2 separate regions of the Homo sapiens genome follow, and region 2 is linked to region 1. Evidence: fine-mapped expression QTL. A gene starts in region 1. The other region holds a variant in brackets. All regions are shown on one strand. Distances are from middle to middle. Region 1 holds the start of RYK (receptor like tyrosine kinase). Region 2 overlaps RYK (receptor like tyrosine kinase).

Region 1 (4,390 bases):
GTGTATAAAGCATGTAGGGGCAGGTATATGGCAGGAATTCAATGTCAGTCCCTGGTTGTCTTCTGTCTCCTACCTACACCTCTGACTTTGTTTACCCATGTAAACAAAGTCACAAGCTATATAAGTGCTTTTAACCAAAAAGCCTTTACAAAACCATGCATAATACGTTAATATTTCTAAAATTAATGTGATATGAGTCGTCTTGTATTATTTTTCCTAAATCTTAGTCTTGTGTTCCAAGTACTACCCCAAGTAGAGTTTTAATTCAGCTAAACTACATTCAGCTAACTCAGCTAGACTAAGAAGGATTAAGAATGAGCACGACTTCATAAAAAGAGCATTCTTCTTTGGCTAAAAACTGCAAATCCGTACATGTAATGTCTAAAGAGTCTGCTTTCAGTAATTCCATTTCTACACTGAGTCAATCTCAACACACCTCAACAAAGTCTTATTACTTAAAAAAAAATAGAATACTGACAAATAATGGATGCAATAGAGAATAATTTTTCCCCTCAAACACTCAGAAGCACCACCTTCAGATGAAATAAAGATACTGCCATAATAACAAAAGAATGCAAACGTCTAGGTACCAAGGACTTCCTTTTTGGGGGGTCGTTCCTGTCAGATCTTCCTCTAAGGGGTCATTTCCAGAATCCACAAAGTCCTAACATAAGACCCCAGCAATTTTTCAAATTAATTCCCCAAACAACAAAGCTAAGCAAGTAAATGGAACCACAAACCGACCCAAGACTAAGTTCTTGTTTCCCTTCAAGATACTCAAAAGTAGGAGAGTGGCCCAGAAGTACAGAGTCAGTCCAAACTCCCAACACACCCAATGCAAAAACCAAAAAGGTATTGAAACTAAAAAGGTCTGCTACCTGGCGATTCATTCACTAAAAATATGCTTAGAATCTAAGCATATGCTCCAAATCTACGTCCCAAGAGTTGGAGGCTGCCACGAACATTTGGTGCCCTTATAACCTCCCCTTCTTTCTCTCTCGTTTTTTTTTTTTTTTTTTTTTTTTTTGTAAAAGGGTAAGCACAGAGCGTGGCCTCTACTGGAGCATCAAAACCACAGCAAAGGGTTTGCAAGTTCAGTCTAAAACGTGAATTTCGAGATATTCAAAATCGAGGGCCCTAGAGTGACACACATAGAAAGCGTCAAAAAAACTTCGTGCAGCAAGGAAAAAAAGTTGTAAGGGTGACTGACTCTTCTAGGGAGAAGGGCTAAGGAGGCAGTGAGGAGGATGGGATGGGGTGAATCTGGGTCTATCGCGGCGGGGCAGCGAGGGCGGCACGAAGGCTGACCCAGAGCTGGGGACCGGGCAGGGACCACACCTCCCAGCCAGCACGGCAGGCAGAGACCGGGCCGCGAGGCGAATCCGGGCGCGGGGGGCGGGGAGGGTACTCGCCCGAGGTCCACGGCTCGCAGACTGATCCGCCGGCGGCCGGAAGCTGCCCCAGCCGGCCCGACCTGCCCGCCCCGGCCTCGGCGGCCCCACTCACCGATCAGCCGGCGCACCTCGTCCTCGCTCAGGTAGAGACTCACGCTGGGCCCCGCGGAAGCCGACTGCAGCTCCGGGGGCCGCGGGGCGGGGGCGGCGGCAGCGCCAGGCGCGGGCAGCAGCGGCAACAGCGCAAGCAGAAGCAGCAGCGGCGGCGGCGGCGGGGCCCTCAGGCCGCGGGCCCCCGGGAGGCAACTCCGGCCCGGCCGCCCCAGCCGCGCCGCCCCACGCATGGCCGCCGCCGCCGCCGCCGAAGAGGAGCGTCGGCCGCCCGCCGCACCGCCGCCCACCCCCGGCCCCGAGCCGCTCACAGCCCCGAGCCGGGGGCGGCTGCCCAGCTCATCGCACCGCCGGCCCGTGGCAGCCAGCAGTGGCTTCAGACCTCCGGAGCGCGCCGCCGCCGCCGCCTCCTCGCTGCATCGTCCGGAGTTGGGGGCTGCCCGCGGGACGCGCCCGTGCGCGCCGCCGCCTCCCCGGGAGCGCGCACGCACCTTTCGCTCTGGGCGGGCCGGCCTGGGCAACGCGCTGGGGTTTTAAAGTGCCTCGGCGGGCGAAGGGCTCGGGTCACCCTCTCCGCAAGAGCCGGTCCCCGCCCCACGCGGTCACTGCGTCTAATGTTTGCTTGTCTATTGTCTGTAACCCTCCTTTCCCGACGGACGGGCCAGGCTGGAGCCACCGGCCGCGCCTGCAGCTCAGTGGGCGCCCCAGGTCCCCGGAAACGCCTGGATGCGGCCGTTCTGGTTGCGAAAAAGCAGCATGCTTTCCTGTTTAGTGGGAAAACTCAAATAAATAGAAATCATCCTTTATCTTACCATCGGTGATCAACTTTATCGTTTCCGTATCTATTATTAGAATTTATACTACATATATTTGTTTTCCAGAAAGATCTTAGCACGCTTTACTAACCCTATTTTTACGTTACAAAATTTTATTTATTTTTATATTTTTATTTATTTATTTTGAGACGAAGTCTTGCTCCGTCACCCAAGCTGGAGTGCACTGGCACGATCTCGGCTCACTGCAACCTCTGCCTCCTAGGTTCAAGCCATTCTCCTGCCTCAGCCTCCCGAGTAGCTGGGATTACAGGCGCCCGCAACCATGCCCGACTAATTTTTTTGTATTTTTAGTAGAGACGGGGTTTCACCATGTTGGCCGGGTTGGTCTCGAACTCCTGACCTCACGTGATCAACTGACCTCGGCCTCCCAAAGTGCTGGGATTACAGGTGTAAGCCACCGCGCCCTGCCAAATTGTTATTTTTTTTATAATCGTTCTGCATCACTATAATCAACCTGCCTTTGGGGTTGTTAATCTGTGGTCCATACCAGGCTTCGACAGCCTTCCAATAATATGAAACTGTGTGCAAAAGTGTATGTGTCTCCGTGCGTATTTGTGTCCACGTCCATGTTTCTGTGTGTTGTGTGTATGCTTGATTGCACACAGAGAGGTGGTATGTCATCATTTGTTCTAGGGAGTCCTTGTGCCCTCAAAGAGGTTAAGAACTGCAGATAGACCTCGTGTACTTAAAGGCGGTGGAGCCAGCCAGTGCATGGACTTCCGGGCCTCCTGATGTATTTTTGTGAGCCGCCCACCATCGCGGTCAAACTTGCACCAGTGCCCCCTCTCTTGGTGAGGCTCCAAGGGCCCCTGCCCTGTCCTGGGACACCTCGTCCCTGCGGACAGGCCCCCGTCCTGACCCCAAGGCTCTCGCGGGGCCGTGCCTCGGGGAGCAGCTGCTCTGACAGCTAGGCCTGGCTTCGGGGCACAGTTGCTCCATCGCAGTGAGGCCCTGGGAAGCGGTTATTTTTATCCTCAGGGAAGGGTAGGGAAAAGGAGAGGCTGATAAGGAGGGAAGTGCTGGAACTTGATTTTCTCCCTCCCTAGCAAGATACACGGATTCCATTTAGAGATAGGCTGGCCTCAATTTGTCAAGCTTCAGCGCCTCAGCACAAAATCTTACACCCTTCATCCTGCCGGAGGAGGCTGAGAAGAGGAAGAGGGGAGGAAAAGTGCTCCATCAGAGAAGGCTTTTAAGCCACAAAAGTCAGCAAAAATACTTCTGTTGGGACAGCCACTGCTACCAGGGTTCTGCCAGGAAGGGCTGGAGGCTCAAAACATGTTGTGTGAACAGGAATCTCAATTCAGATGGGAAGCATTTTTTTAAAGGATGGCATATTCTTTGCACTTTTAAAAAAGCTCACAGTCCTCAAAGAATGAAACTCCTAGCTTCTCGAGGTTCTTTAATTACTAGGTCTTGTCAGTGACTTCTTCAGGCGGCCTATGATGTAAACAGCAGAGAGCTCCCACTCAGGCCTGGCTGGGTTCTGGTACTTGTTAATCCTGTGGTCTTGGGAAAATTAAACTCTCCAAGCCTTGGTTCTCTCATTCATAAAAATCCCGGGATAATGCCCGACTCCCAGGGCTTTTACAGGATTTAATTGGAGAGGGATACAAGTAAAACATCTAGGCAGACGCTGGGTAGGTGTCACACCTGTTGTTATTGTAATTACAAGGAATCCTTTCCCTTTAATGACCACTTCCTGTGAAAGTTTCATCACCAGTTACCTCCAAACAGTTCAAACCTGGGACCCTCATGAACCTCATTCAATAGCACTGAGCCTGGCCCAGAGCCTGAGCTCGATGAAGACTCGTGCCAGGCATCACGCTAGGCACTGGGGACACAGGAGCGAGCAATGTGCTTCCTTGAGAACTTTGATAAACAAATGTTTTCATAAATTCTACAAAGACAAGTTCTCAAAGTGTGGCCCCCAGACCAGCAGTATCATCACCTGGGAACTTGTAATGTAAATTCCTTGGACACTGCCCATACTAACAGGTAGCAGCTCCAGGGCTGGGGCCCAACAATCTGTTTTCCCAAGCCTCCTGG
Region 2 (4,390 bases), 78 kb before region 1:
GAATAAAAAACTCTATCTGTAATAACAAACTAAATAACTAACTAAAGTAATTCTCTTGTGAATCTGCTCACCATTAAGTTAATGGTGATATTTTAAAATAAAGCTGCCACATGAACAAGCAACTAAGTATTTGGTGTAACTGCATTCTGATGATGGCAGATTCTTACATAAAATGTGTGAACTCCTGCAAAATGTCATAACCATAAAAATAACTATTTCTGATATAATTTGAAATGTTCTGCCTAACCAAACCATGTATCCTCAACATGAACTTTGCCAGCTAATACCCAGCTGAAGAGACTCAACGCTCTTGGAGCATCTTGCTTGGAGATTTATTATTAGCTATAGCCTCATTTGTTGAAAGTATATTATCTAACTTAATTTTCACTCTGTAGGTCCTACAAAATATTTAATCATAAATGTTACAAAAAAATAATTCCTATCATCGCTTAATTATACAATGGTATACCTACACAGAAATAAATACGTTAAATTAAGTAATACAGGCTGGGTGCAGTGGCTCCCGCCTGTAATCCCAGTGCTTTGAGAGGTCAAGGCAGGAGGATCGCTTGAGCTTAGGGGTACAAGATCAGCCTGGGCAACACAGCAAGCCTCCATCTCTACAAAAAATAAAAGAATTAGCCACGTGTGGTGGCACACACTGGTAGTCCTAGCTACTCAGGAGGCTGAGGCAGGAGGACCACTTGAGCCCAGGAGTACAAGGCTACACTGAGCTATGACTGTACCACTGCACTCCCACCTGGGCAACAGAAGTAGCTAAGGAAAAAAAAAAAAAGTAATACATATTTTGGGGGCCTCCACTGTGCAAGCAAATAGCACTACTTGCCATCTTGCATACCCCTTTGAAATACAAGCTATCAATGCTCCTTTTTCTAAGAGAATAATAAAAAGATTTCCAACCTCTTCAAATTACACGAAATACTTATAGATTATCATCTAAGAATTATCTTCCATTTTCTGCCCATCGAACTAGTTTTGGTTCACCACAACAGCCATATCATTTCAGCAAAGGCAACTATATTTCAATAAATAACAAAATAAAAATTTTAAATCAACCACTGGAAATAAAAAAATTAACATCCCAAAGAGACGAGTGAATCCATCTTTTAAATCAACTACGGAATAAAATTTTCAAAGTAAACACTAAGAAAAGTTTACTTCACTTTTCTACATTTAAAAATGTTTAGATGTGAGCTTTTACTAAAGGAGTAAATTTGAGATCACACTGCTCTAATTCAACTGATATTATGTTTTAAAATTATGTTCTACAACCAAAGCCAAACCAATTCCTCCTGTCCCCTTTCCCACTCCATGAAAATAGCTTTGCTTAATGTAGAGCTGGTAAACAGTTCCAGCTACAATTCAGAATTTCTGAATAAAGATTTGGCAACTCTAAAACCAAAAACATTATCAAAGAGTAGAACTAGTCCTTACTGTCATTCAGTACAGCAGCTGTGCATTGGTCTAAAATCAAACTCTGCTTTCCCTTCGTATGTCATTTGAAAAATATAAAAATCAAAACCAAAAATGTAACCTTTCTCTCCCTAAAAAAAAGCCCAGGTTCTCATTACGTAGAGATTTAAAAAGAATATAACCTGCTTTGCATATTTGTACTGCTTTACTTGGTATGTTTAACTTCTAGACATTAATGCTAGAGAGAGATTTTTTCTTTATCATCAGAGCTCTGGAAAAACAGACCAGGACTAGTACCCCACTGCTCTATAAGCTGAACCCTGGGATTCAGTATCCAAGAGTCTGGCTTTATTTCCCTCATCCTGCCACCCATCACCCACCATGCCCGATGCCTCTCTGGCTAGGAGAGGCTGTGGACAACATGAAACAGGTTGTCATTCAGTGTTAGCTTCTGAGACTGCTCTGTGAAGCAGATCACATCCCTTCTCATAATCATTCATATTTACTTTGTTCATCTCACAAATGTCAGATAAATTGTTTCTTTGAGAATAGTTTATCTTGAGTTAAAACAAAGTATTTTGAAGATATATAAAATGAAAGACCTTGATTTTAACAAAATTAGCTAGGCATGGTGGTGCGCGCCTATAGTCCCAGCTACTCAGGAGGCTGAGGCAGGAGAATCGCATGAACCCAGGAGGCGGAGGTTGCACTGAGCTGCAATCGCGCCACTGCACTCCAGTCTGGTGATAGAGCGAGACTCTGTCTCAAAAAAAAAAAAAATTTAAAAATTATATAAGTAAATTGCTCATTCACATTAAGTGAACACATTTTATCAAAATACTTGGTATGTAAAAGGAGCAATATATCTGTATTAGTCCCTTCTCACACTGCTATGAATAAATACCCAAGACTGAGTAATTTATAAAGGAGAGAGGTTGAATTGACTTATTTCTGCAATGATGGAGAGGCCCCAGGAAACTTACAATCATGACGAAGGAAAAGAAG[A/C]AGCAGGCACCTTCCTCACAGGGTGGCAGGATGGAGTGAGTGTGAGCAGGGGAAATGCCAGACGCTGATAAAAGCATCAGATCTCGTGAGACTCACTAGAACAGCATGGGGGAACCTGCCCCCCATGATCCAATTATCTCCACCCTTGGTCTCGCCCTTGACGTGGGGATTATGGGAATTCCAATTCAAGATGAGATTTTGGGTGGGGACATAGCCAAACCATATCAATATCAAATAGCACATAGTTTCTAAAAAGGAAAAAAAATTTATTTAGTAGTTAGAGTTAATTAAAGGAATTTTCCCCTTTCTCAAATTATTCTCATTTTAAGGATTTTAAATTAGAATATCAGTTTTTCAGTAAAGAAATCTTAGATCATTTCAATTATTGACTGCAGTGAACTGAATGGTAGCCCCAAAGATATGCCCATGTCCTACTCCCTGAAACTTGTAATTACCTTACATGACAAAACGTGATTAAGGATCTTGAGAGGAAAAGTTTATTCTGGATTATGTAAGTGGGTTCTAAATCATATGTATCCTTTTAAGAGGGAGGCAAAGAGAGTTTGAAAGACGTATGTGAAGAAGAAGGTGGTATGAACTTGGAACAGAGGGATGGAACCGCAAGCCAAAGAATGCCAACAGCCACCAGAGCTGAAAGAGGCAAGGACTGCTTCTCCACTAGAGCCTCTGGAAGGAGCCCAGCCCTGACTACACCTTGATTTCAGACATTTGGCCTCAGAAGTGAACCACGAGAGACTATATTTCTATTGTTTTAAGCCACCAAGGTTGTAGTAATTTGCTACAGCAGCCACAGAAAACTCATACACCGAGGAAATGAGTATATACCAATTAATATAATTAATTAGCGTACAGTAATACATGATTAAAAGATTAATCCTTAAAACATACACACTTTGAAACAAAAGAGTAGCCCTAAATTTTAAAATATAGACACACAAAATACAATGATACAGTAAGCCCAATTCTTACAGTTGAAGCTTAGAAGCAAATTATTCTATAGGATTTTACATATAACACAAACAGATTATCACTGAGTGAACATATGTGGGACCCTATAAGCAGAAGTTTTACCTAATCCCTAAATATTCTGCAACAATAATAAAGTCTAACAGGCAAGAGACAGGAAAATAAATTACACTTAGTCTTCCAAATAAGACTAAGAAATCAAGTGACAGAAATTTTACATGGCTGTAAAATATGAACAAGTGAACGTGGCTTCTGAAACTGTACATCACAAAGGGCCCAACTATGATCTGGCTAAGTGGCAAAACCACCCAGAAACTTGACAAAAGGAAGAGGATGACGGGGGGATTTACAAATTTTATGAGCCATAACACTTAGAAGAGGTCACCTGAAAAAAAGAAAACATCTTTATGATCTAGCAACTATTTGGTCTGCCTCTTATATAAGAAAGAAATAATAATGAAATTACTGTAACTGCTCTGAGTCTCAAAATCCTCACCTTTAAAACTGGGATACCACAGCCTATCTCCTAGTGTTAATAGTGCTTCTGTCAATGGGCGTGGTGGCTCACACCTGTAATCCCAGGACTTTGGGAGGCGGAGGCAGGTGGATCAACTGAGGTCAGGAGTTCAAGACCAGCCTGGCCAACATGGTGAAACCCCGTCTCTACTAAAAATACAAAATTAGCTGGGCATGTGCCCATGGTGGCACACGCCTGTAATCCCAGCTACCTGGGAGGCTGAGGCCTGAGAATCGCTTGAACCTGGTAGGCAGAGGTTGCAGTGAGCCAGGATTGCGCCATTGCACTCCAGCCTGGGCTACAAGAGTGGAACTCTGTCTTAAAAAAAAAAAAAAAAAAAGTGCTTCTGTCAGAGCAGTACTGTGAGGATGAAATGAGATTACAAACAGTGCTGGCCTATGGTCTGGGTCACAGCTCCTCTCCATAAACTGGTTGACTGGCAGCTAA

Evidence for each region. PIP is the estimated chance that this variant, and not a neighbour inherited with it, causes the effect.
Region 2: its variant is the best candidate, but not a certain one, in a credible set for the expression of RYK in blood mononuclear cells (TOPMed, PIP 0.71).

What each region holds. Positions count from the first base shown.
Region 1 is chr3:134,248,917-134,253,306 of GRCh38, forward strand. RYK (receptor like tyrosine kinase) reads right to left here and starts at 1,943. Exons shown (of 15, transcript NM_002958.4): 1 at 1,507-1,943. The coding sequence starts at 1,738. RefSeq lists an enhancer at 1,184-1,962 and a silencer at 1,298-2,117.
Region 2 is chr3:134,171,080-134,175,469 of GRCh38, forward strand. The region is part of intron 13 of RYK (receptor like tyrosine kinase); the gene reads right to left. It also overlaps the pseudogene HMGB3P14. Among named protein-coding and RNA genes, the nearest start is that of RYK, 78 kb to the right of the region's middle. The variant A/C (reference allele first, on the strand shown) is at 2,440.